Linked DNA regions of Homo sapiens: region 2 is linked to region 1. Evidence: fine-mapped expression QTL. A gene starts in region 1. The other region holds a variant in brackets. All regions are shown on one strand. Distances are between the middles of the regions. Region 1 holds the start of EPHX2 (epoxide hydrolase 2). Region 2 has its middle 57 kb from the start of EPHX2.

Region 1 (5,378 bases):
AGCACGACCATGAAAAAGGGCAAAGTGCAGTGAAATGCAATTGAGACCTTTAATCTTTGCCTAAGCAATTCAGCCAGAAAGCTCTGTAACTCACAAGGCATTATAAAAATATTCCACACCAGAGCTATTTACAAGTTAACTGCTCCTGAATAAATAAAAGTCCATGTGATAGCTTCATGGCTTTCTCTTAACCAAAGAGGAAAGTAAAACTCATATTTCTATGTTTTTAAATTTTTCTTCTCAAAAGGGGGCTTTATGAAATCTAGTTCTGTAGGTATGTCGTTCCTCTACACTTTACTGCTTGTATAAATATACTTACGTATTCATAAGCAATACTGTGCTAGATGCAGAATTCAGATGCAGGCAACAGAAATCACTGTAGTTATTTTAAATAGAAACAGAAGAAAGGGATTTAAGATGAGAGACTGCAAGCCTACACAATCTTTGAACGGAATGGAGGAGTGAGCTCCAGACTGAGCCTTTAGGAAGGACTCCCAGAAAACACCACCATAGAACTAGAAGCTGCTATCTCTGCCTCAATCAGCAGGCCACCGCTAGAAACACGAACATATGGTTTGGCTGGGAGCCAAGGATCTGGAAGCAACTCCGTGGTCTCGGGACTGAGCCACTGAGTCAATGGGGATGCCAGTTTGTAAGATAGGGAACACACTAGGAGGAACAGGCGTGGGAAGTAGAAATGCAGAGAGAGTTCTGTTTTAGCCATGATAAATTTGAGATGCCTGTTAGACACTCAAGAGAAGATGTTCAGTAAGAAGTTGGATATTGACGTTGAGTAAGATGTTGAGTAAGAAGTTGGCAAGTCTGGAGCCCAAAGGAAACTCTAAGTTGGAGATTTAATTTCTTTCTTTTTTTTTTTTGGAGGTAGAGTCTTGCTGTGTCACCCAGGCTGGATGGAGTGCAGTGGCACAATCATGGCTCACTGCAGCCTCCACTTCCTGGGCTAAAGTGATCGTCCCACCTCAGCCTCCTGAATAGCAGAGACTACTGGCATGCACCACCATGCCTAGCTAATATTTTATTTTTATTTTTTATAGAGAGAATGTCTTGCTTTGTTGCCCAGGCTTGTCTCAAACTCCTGGCCTCAAGCAATTCTCCCACCTCAGCCCCAAAGTGCTGGGATTACAGGTGTGTGCCACCATGCCCAATCTGGAGATTTAACAGGTTTCATACTATATAGGTCAGGCTGCAATTTTCTTTCTATTTTTTAAAATTCAATTATACCTTTGAGATCAACTAACTTCATGAGAAACTAGCTTGCTGTACTCCCTTCTCTGCCTATCTTTCAGTCTTCAAATCCAGAGTAATCCAGTTTCTACCATAAAGGGCCCACAAAAAGTGTTCTGAAACATCCGGTGTCATCCAAGTCCAAAATTGGACAGCTTTTTTTTCAGTTCTTCCTGTAACATTTGGCAGTGTTGGCCACTCTCTGCTTCTTTGGCAAGAATCTCAGAAAACACTAATAACTGCTCCAGGCAGGAGCCTGGAAGAGGTTACCAAGCTAGAGAAGGAAGCAACAGCATAGCTTGCTAAGGGCAAACAGCCCAGAGGAAACCCACGGCTCTGGTCAATCCTGTTGTTGATTGCTAGATCCAGAGACTGTTGTAGACCTCCCAGTTACAGTGAGGTATCTGACAACCCCTCACAAGGTTCTTGAAGCTCCGTGGTGGAGGGTATCTTGGATAAATCCACAGAGACACATTCAAGAGTAAATTCTCCACTGTTGGAGACCTCACTCACTCTGTTTGGTCTCCACCAAAGACACGGTTTTTAATTCATGGAGCTGCACTACAACAGCTCAAGAACTCCCAGCCAAAGTTTTAGTTTTTCTAGGAACATAAACGAGCCAATAGTGTGGAAATCGGTGATTAAAAACAAACCTCGCACATTTTAAGACAGAATTATTACAAGTAGCATGTACAAAAGGAAAATAATAGCCTACATTTAGTTCTTCTAAGCTTCATTCCACAAGAGATTGAAATCGAAGTATTCTGGGCTGGCACACGATAGCTGGAACATCATATTTTATTCTAGAAACACATTTGCCTTGGCAAAGAAGAGCGTGCCTAGAGGAGTGGTCAGGATAGTGAGGGATCTGTGATCCTTCGTTCTGAATCTAGAAAAGTCACTGGATATGCCCCTCCCCCGCCCCCCAACACGGTCTTATGTTCTGAATGTAGAAGTCACTGGATGTGCTGACACACACACACACACACACACACACACACACACACACACACACACACACACACAGAGTCTGTGGCCTCTTTCCCAGGCATTCCAAGTCCAGCAAGTTCGCAGGGAGCTGTCAGTCCGTCCAGGAAGGCCCGGGCCTGGGTTTGCCTCTTCAAGCAGCTACTGCAGGGGCGTGGGGAGGGGGCATAAGAGACTTTGGACTTTCCTTTGAGACAGTAGAAAGCGTTACATCCAGAGGCGAGATTCTAGCCTGGGGTCCCCGCCTTCCCGGCCTCCTCTTCCTCTCCCTCTGACTCCCTTTCCTGTGCCCCTCCCCCTGCCTCTTTCCCGGCCAGAGTCCAGCCTTAACCCGGGCAGAGGGCGGAGTCCCGTTAAGGGGGTGTGGGGAGGAGGCGGGGCCAGGGCAGGGGCGGGGCAGAGCCGGGCCAAGCTGGGCGGGTCATGCGCCCTGGCCTTCGCGCATCTCCCAGGTTAGCTGCGTGTCCGGGTGCTAGGCTGCAGACCCGCCGCCATGACGCTGCGCGCGGCCGTCTTCGACCTTGACGGGGTGCTGGCGCTGCCAGCGGTGTTCGGCGTCCTCGGCCGCACGGAGGAGGCCCTGGCGCTGCCCAGGTAAGGGGGCCCAGCGCCGCCGCCGCAGTGGGTCGGGGCCTCAGGAGGCAGACCGCGCTGGGCTTGCAGCCCAGCTTTCAGATTGCTCCTGTGCCGGAGCCCTGCGAATCATGCGAATCATGAAACTGAAGACCTGGCCCTGAAGTCCCAGTGCATATGAGGAGATCCGTTGTCTTTCTAAATGTTCATAATTAAACGTTGCCAAGGTCTCCAAAATTGCTTTCTGTGAACTTTTCCAAAAGGGAGAGGAGTTACTCATGGAGCTTTGTGCTTCTGCTGCCTCCTGTCTAATGGGGTGGCGCTTAAAGATGCGAGCCGAGATTCAGGAGAGAAGAAAGTTCTCTCCCCAGGTGTGGGTTGCATGCTTACTTGTGTAATAGCAAACTGCAGCAACCGCCCAAAGCCACATCACTGGGAAATGGTAGATGGGGTGTGCAGAGTGAGAGCTCAGGGACTTGGGAAAACACCTGTTCTACTACATGAAAAAACCACCCCACCAGAATCTGAAGCTATTTATACAATATGGTTTCAGCTATGGAAAAAAGGTACATGCAGAAAAGTGCCTGAAAGAAATAGGCCAAAGTACATCAAATGAGATTAGGAATAATGTAATGATTTTCTTTCTCTCTCTCTTTTTTTTGTGTTTTTTTTTTTTGTAGTTTCCAACTTCTAAATTTATAAACAATGTATTATTCCCACATTCAGAAAGGAGAGAAGTATACTTATTTATAAAGTGAAAAAGAAGGCCAGGCATGGAAGCCATTGTTCATATCCTCCTTTTACATATGAGGAAACTGAGGCACAGAAAGAAACCAGCTGTCCAAATCACATAGCTGTTAAAGAGCAGAGCCAGAAATCCAACCCCAGTAGTCCATGTCCGGAGCCTTTGCTTTTAATATAGTAAGGAAGATGAGATGGCAAGTAGCTTGAGGGAAAGGCATGTAATCTCTGTGCTTTGGGAAGCTAAGGTGGGAGGATCACTTGAGGCTGAGAGTTCAAGACCAGCCTGGGTGAAAGAGCAAGACCCTGTCTCTCCAAAAATAAAAATAAAATTAGCTAGACATTAGTGCATGCATGTAGCCCCAGCTACTTGGGAGGCTAAGGCAGAAGGATTGCCTGAGCCCAGGAGTTGGAGGCTATAGTTGTGTCCAGAGTTGGTTCCTGTCGGTGGGTTCGTGGTCTTGCTGACTTCAAGAATGGAGCTGTGGACCTTCGCAGTGAGTGTTACACTCGTAAAGATGGCGCAGACCCAAAGAGTGAGTGATAGCAAGGTTTATCGTGAACAGCGAAAGCACAAAGCTTCCACAGCATGGAAGGGGACCCCAGCAGGTTGCCGCTACTGGCTGGGGTGGCCAGCTTTTATTCCCTTATTGTCCTCTCCCATGTTCCATTTCTGTCCTATCAGAGTGCCCTTTTTTCAATCCTCCCCGTGATTGGCTACTTTTAGAATGCTGCTGATTGTGCGTTTTACAGAGCGCTGATTGGTGCATTTTACAATTCTCTTGTAAGACAGGAAAGTTCCCCAAGTCCCCACTCGACCTAGGAAGTCCAGCTGGCCTCACCTCTCAATCCTCCCTCATAACAGGACACCCCACCTGCTACTGGGAACTGGGTGATGACCACTCTAGCTACTTCCTGCTGGATAGGGGCAAAGAAGGGGCCCTGCCGTTGTAGTGTCCTCCAGAGGGGAACTCTCTAGGCCAGTCAAAGGGCCAGTGGGTCAGTCTAGCAGTCCTCGGTAGAAGTTGTGAGTTAAGCTCATTTGGGGTTCCATTTGTAAGACCATCTGTAGCTTGATGGCCTTGATCCTGGAGGAAACAAATTTGAGGAGGAGGTTAAAAATACAGGGACTGAAGGTGAGTAATAGCAAGATGGCTGTCACGGGACCTAGAAAGGGGAGAAGCCAAGTCACCCAACTCCAGAGGTTGGTATAAGAATTTGAAAGGTGTTGTCTGGTTTCAGAAGCCTTTTCCTGTAAATGCCAGGCAGCATCCTGTACTATCCCTGACTGGTTAGTTTAAAAACAACACTCCTCCCCTAAGAAGGTGCAAAGTCCTCCTTTCTCAGCAGTGAGGAGGTCTAGACCTTAGCGGTTTTGGAGAGTCACTGTTGCCAAATAGTCTATTTGGGATTGTAGAGTAAGGATAGATTTATTTATTGCAAACTGTCTGAGAAATCCTTTGAGAGTGTATGGTAGTAGGATAATGAAGTAGTTAAACTGGCTATTCTGGTTCCTGTAGCAGTGGGCATTCCTAGCCCTATAAGTAGGGGTATTAGTTGTATGGTCCTGGGCTGACAGACTTGAGCTTTGAGGGGCACTGATAGGGTCTGATTTCCTGTGGCATTGTTAGTGTTGGGACTTAGGAGAAGGTGCAGGTGCCTGTCCAGCTGGTGGGAGGCAGATATAGGTTGAAGTTCCACATAAGAAGAATATGCCTTGGCTGGGTAGAATAAACTGGTTGTGTATGTTAAAAAGGTGTGTGAGTTTGTTTTCATTTTCCCACACTCCTAGAGTACTTGCCAAGGTAGCTCTGGTGAGCAGCTGGAAAGGG
Region 2 (5,378 bases), 57 kb after region 1:
GGTTATCGGGCTCACAGATGCACGCACAATGGCCTCGCTGCTTGCGAGAGAAAGTGGTCCCTCCAAGCTGAGTTTGGCATGATGACGGGCATGAGTTGGCCAGGTCACAAGAGCCTGAGTATCTGTGTATAGGGAGAAAGCCAGGAGAGGTTTGAAATGGAGGCTGCTGGCATTTCTTCACTGCCCTAGTGCACCTGGAGTCTTCCATGCACCACCTCTGATCCTTCCAGAGAGTCCTTCCCATTTAACCGAGAGGGAAACTGAGGTTCAGATAATTTGCCCAGGACTGCTTGGCTAGATGGGGGCAGAGCCTGGATTCAGAAGCAGGCTTTCTGGCTCCTAAGGCTGAGCTTTTTCTACAAAAAAATGTTCTCGTCGCGCCACTGCACTCCAGCCTGGGCAACAGATTGAGACTCCGACTCAAAAAAAAAAAAAAAAAGAGAAGTTCTCCTTTCTAAATCTGGAGCCAGACCACCTAGGTTAGGCCTCCGGTCAGCTGCATACTCGCCTTGTGACCTTGAAAAAGGATATCTGTGCCCCAGTTCCCTCATCTATAAAAAAGGGGACGTTAGTAGGACCTAACTCATGGGTGGTTGTATCAAGTATGTTAATAATATGCACAGAGTTCTAGAACAGTGCTTGGCATGGAGGAAGTGCTATGGAAGTATCAGCTATAAGATTTCCAGTTTGTCTTAGGACAAGACCTCTAAGGGCTTTCCATTTCCAGCCATGCCACCACCATCTCAATCTTTTGCATCTGAGAATTAAAGGGCTAATTTAAAGGCAATCATGAGGACTGGGGGAAAGGCTTACACCAGATCACATTATTTTCCTAACTGGGTGTATTCAAGCTCATTTGTAAGGGAGCAGTTGGGGGAAAGGAAATAATCAAAACCTAAAAGCGTCCTTTACTGGAAGGAGCACAAACAGCAAACCTGTCTTCCCGAAAGTCTCGCTTTTAATATTCTATCCAGTCATCTCCATCAGCCATCAAAAAGGCCTCAGAAATTCTGCTCCTTTGGCAAGTAAGAGTTGAATAACTCCATTCCATAGCATTGCCAGAAAATATAACTGGTTATACAAGATTGAGGGCTGTATCGGTCTGTTCTCCCATTGCCATAACGAACTACTGGAGACTGGCTACTTTATAAAGAAAAGAGGTTTAATTGGCTCACGGTTCTGCAGGCTTTACAGAAAGCATGGCTGGGGAGGCTCCAGAAAACTTACAATCATGGCAGACGGTGAAGGGGAAGCAGGCACATCCTACGTGTCTAGAACAGGAGGGAGAGAGAAAGAGAAGGGGGAGGTGCTACACACTTTTATAAACAACCAGATCTCATGGGAACTCACCATCACGAGAACAGCAAGGGGGAAATCCGCCCCCAAGATCCAGTCACTGCCCACCAGGCCCCACTTCCAACATCGTGGATTACAATTTGACGTGAGATTTGGGTGGGGACAGAAATCCAAACCGTATCAAGGGCCATAAAGGACAGTGGACTGGAAGAGGTCTTTAGGTTTTTCAAGAAGATAGTGGAATGTCCAGGGCTATGTTTCCTGGTCTGCTTTGAGGACCTTTGGGCCACACGTCAACTGTTGCAGTGGTGGTATCAGGGCATTCCCTGGAACAATCAGGGAAGATTTTCAGATGCCATTTTAAGTACAAATGGCAAGGAGTGTGTTCAAAATGATTTAATTATAAAATGCTATATTTTGGGATTGAATTTAATTTGTAATTAACATACTAGTACATATTCATGGGGTACATAGTGATGTTTTGATACATATAATGTGTAGCAATCAGATCAGGGTAATTACACATGTCATCTCAAACATTTATCGTTTTTGTATTGAGGACATTTAATAACCTCCTTCTGGCTATTTAAAACAATGTATCATTGTTGACTGTAGTCATTGCTCAGTGCTATACAACGCTAGAACTTACTCCTCCCATCTAGCTGGAATTTGACATTCCTTAAATCCCTCCCTATCCCCCACCTCTTCCCCAACCCTTCCCAGCCTCCTATCCTCCATTCTACTTTTTACTTCTAGGAAATGAATTTTTTTTTAGCTTCTGCATGTGAGTGAGAACATGTGGTGTTTCACTTTCTGTT[T/C]CTGGCTTATTTCACTTAACAGAATGCTCTCCATTTCCATCCGCGTTGCTGCGAGAGACAAGATTTCATTCTTTTTTTGTGGCTGAATAGTAAAAATATGTTATTTTTATTTCATGATTACAAAGGGAATAGATTACAAGTATATTCCCCTCTGCTAAAAGAAATCGGCCCTTAAAAAAGAGGTCCAGCAGTCTTCATATTCTCTCTCACACCCTCCAGCAGTGGGTTGTGCTGCTCCCGGGAGGAGGCTGAGATCACTCACATATTCTGTCAAGGAAGGACCACTTAGTGGCTGTCAATTAGCAACATCCAAGGTTTCCAGGAGACCCGTCTTCTAAAAAGTGAGTCTATTAGACTAGACAGGACAAAAAGCTATTTCTGTCTGTCTTGGGGTATAGGGAACCCACGGTTTTAGACCTTGACATGACTGTCCACCAGTTTCCGTGTCGTTCACAGCCACATTACCATCAATACAAATTAAAAGCAAACAATGGTTAAAATATCTAGGTCAGAGGCTCAAAGGGTTTTTTTCCAACAGGAATTGGGTGACAAATATTATGCCTCACTGTTCAAAGGACTCCATCTGGCCACAAATGATAAAATACTTTCTTGCCTGAGCAATTGTAAAGTGTCAACTCCTGCACCCAAATGTGTAACTGTCTGTCTCCCTGTTAGACTGTGAGGGCCCTGAGATCGGGGGCTGCCTGTCTAAGTAATTCGTCCTGAAACCCAACCCAGCACTGGCCTGGCATATGTAAAATGCTCATTAGACGTTTGCTGAATAAATTGGAGAGTATATGCACAAATGGATGAATGGACAAATGCATTAGTTTCAAGTTAAAATAATTAAAATTTGATCGGGCATGGTGGCTCACATCTGTAATCCCAGCAATTTGGGAGGCCGAGGCGGGCGGATCACCTGAGGTCAGGGGTTCAAGACCAGCCCAGCTAATATGGCAAAACCCCATCTCTACTACAAATACAAAATTAGCTAGGTGTGGTGGTGGGCACCTGTAATCTCTGCTACTTGGGAGGCTGAGGCAGAAGAATCGCTTGAACCCAGAGGCGGAGGTTGCAGTGAACCAAGATCATGCCATTGCACTCCAGCCTGGGCGACAAGAGGGAAATTCCATCTCTATAAATAAATAAATAGCCTAATGTCCTCGAGGTTCATTCATGTTGTCGCATGTGTTGGAATTTTCTTTCTTTTTAAGGCCAAATAATATTCCATTGTATGTATAGACCACGTTTTGTTTACCTACTCATTCAGCAATGGGCACTTGGATGGCTTCCATATTTTGGCTATTATGAATAATGCTCTGAGCATCAGTGTACACATATCTCTTTAGGGCTCTGAATTCAGTCCTTTTGGGTATATATCAAAAAATGGAATGGCTAGATTATATTGTAATTTCTATGTTTAATATTTTGAAGAACCACCAGATGGTTTTCCATAGCTGGTTTCCATTTTCTGTTTTTTTAATATATAGAATGGCCATGTGATGTCCCATGATGGTTTTATTTGAATTTCCCTAATGATTAGTGATGTTGAATATCTTTCCTTTTTTTAAATTTATTTATTATTATTATACTTTAAGTTTTAGGGTACATGTGCACAATGTGCAGGTTAGTTACATATGTATGTATACATGTGCCATGCTGGTGTGCTGCACCCACTAACTCGTCATCTAGCATTAGGTATATCTCCCAATGCTATTCCTCCCCTCTCCCCCCACCCACAATAGTCCCCAGAGTGTGATGTTCCCCTTCCTGTGTCCATGTGTTCTCATTGTTCAATTCCCACCTATGAGTGAGAATATGCGGTGTTTGGTTTTTTGTTCTTGCGATAGTTTACTGAGAATAATGATTTCCAATTTCATCCATGTCCCTACAAAGGACATGAACTTATCATTTTTGATGGCTGCATAGTATTCCATGGTGTCTGTGTGCCACATTTTCTTAATCCAGTCTATCATTGTTGGACATTTGGGTTGGTTCCAAGTCTTTGCTATTGTGAATAATGCCGCAATAAACATACGTGTGCATGTGTCTTTATAGCAGCATGATTTATAGTCCTTTGGGTATATACCCAGTAATGGGATGGCTGGGTCAAATGGTATTTCTAGTTCTAGATCCCTGAGGAATCGCCACATTGACTTCCACAATGGTTGAACTAGTTTACAGTCCCACCAACAGTGTAAAAGTGTTCCTATTTCTCCACATCCTCTCCAGCACCTGTTGTTTCCTGACTTTTTAATGATTGCCATTCTAACTGGTGTGAGATGGTATATCATTGTGGTTTTGATTTGCATTTCTCTGATGGCCAGTGATGGTGAGCATTTTTTTCATGTGTTTTTTGGCTGCATAAATGTCTTCTTTTGAGAAGTGTCTGTTCATGTCCTTCACCCACTTTTTGATGGGGTTGTTTGTTTTTTCTTGTAAATTTATAGGAGTTCATTGTAGATTCTGGATATTAGCCCTTTGTCAGATGAGTAGGTTGCAAAAATTTTCTCGCATTTTGTGGGTTGCATGTTCACTCTGATGGTAGTTTCTTTTGCTGTGTAGAAGCTCTTTAGTTTAATTAGATTCCATTTGTCAATTTTGGCTTTTGTTGCCATTGCTTTTGGTGTTTTAGACATGAAGTCCTTGCCCATGCCTATGTCCTGAATGGTAATGCCTAGGTTTACTTCTAGGGTTTTTATGGTTTTAGGTCTAACGTTTAAGTCTTTAATCCATCTTGAATTGATTTTTGTATAAGGTGTAAGGAAGGGATCCAGTTTCAGCTTTCTACATATGGCTAGCCAGTTTTCCCAGCACCATTTATTAAATAGGGAATCCTTTCCCCATTGCTTGTTTTTCTCAGGTTTGTCAAAGATCAGATAGTTGTAGATATGCGGCGTTATTTCTGAGGGCTCTGTTCTGTTCCATTGATCTATATCTCTGTTTTGGTACCAGTACCATGCTGTTTTGGTTACTGTAGCCTTGTAGTATAGTTTGAAGTCAGGTAGTGTGATGCCCCCAGCTTTGTTCTTTTGGCTTAGGATTGACTTGGCGATGCGGGCTCTTTTTTGGTTCCATATGAACTTTAAAGTAGTTTTTTCCAATTCTGTGAAGAAAATCATTGGTAGCTTGATGGGGATGGCATTGAATCTGTAAATTACCTTGGGCAGTATGGCCATTTTCACGATATTGATTCTTCCTACCCGTGAGCATGGAATGTTCTTCCATTTGTTTGTATCCTCTTTTATTTCCTTGAGCAGTGGT

Evidence for each region. PIP is the estimated chance that this variant, and not a neighbour inherited with it, causes the effect. A credible set is the group of variants that fine-mapping cannot tell apart.
Region 2: its variant is the best candidate, but not a certain one, in a credible set for the expression of EPHX2 in whole blood (TOPMed, PIP 0.74).

What each region holds. Positions count from the first base shown.
Region 1 is chr8:27,488,484-27,493,861 of GRCh38, forward strand. EPHX2 (epoxide hydrolase 2) reads left to right here and starts at 2,660. Exons shown (of 19, transcript NM_001979.6): 1 at 2,660-2,826. The coding sequence starts at 2,726. RefSeq lists a cis regulatory region at 403-717 and a silencer at 2,464-2,743.
Region 2 is chr8:27,545,707-27,551,084 of GRCh38, forward strand. It overlaps a transcript of EPHX2 not described here. Among named protein-coding and RNA genes, the nearest start is that of EPHX2, 57 kb to the left of the region's middle. The variant T/C (reference allele first, on the strand shown) is at 2,115.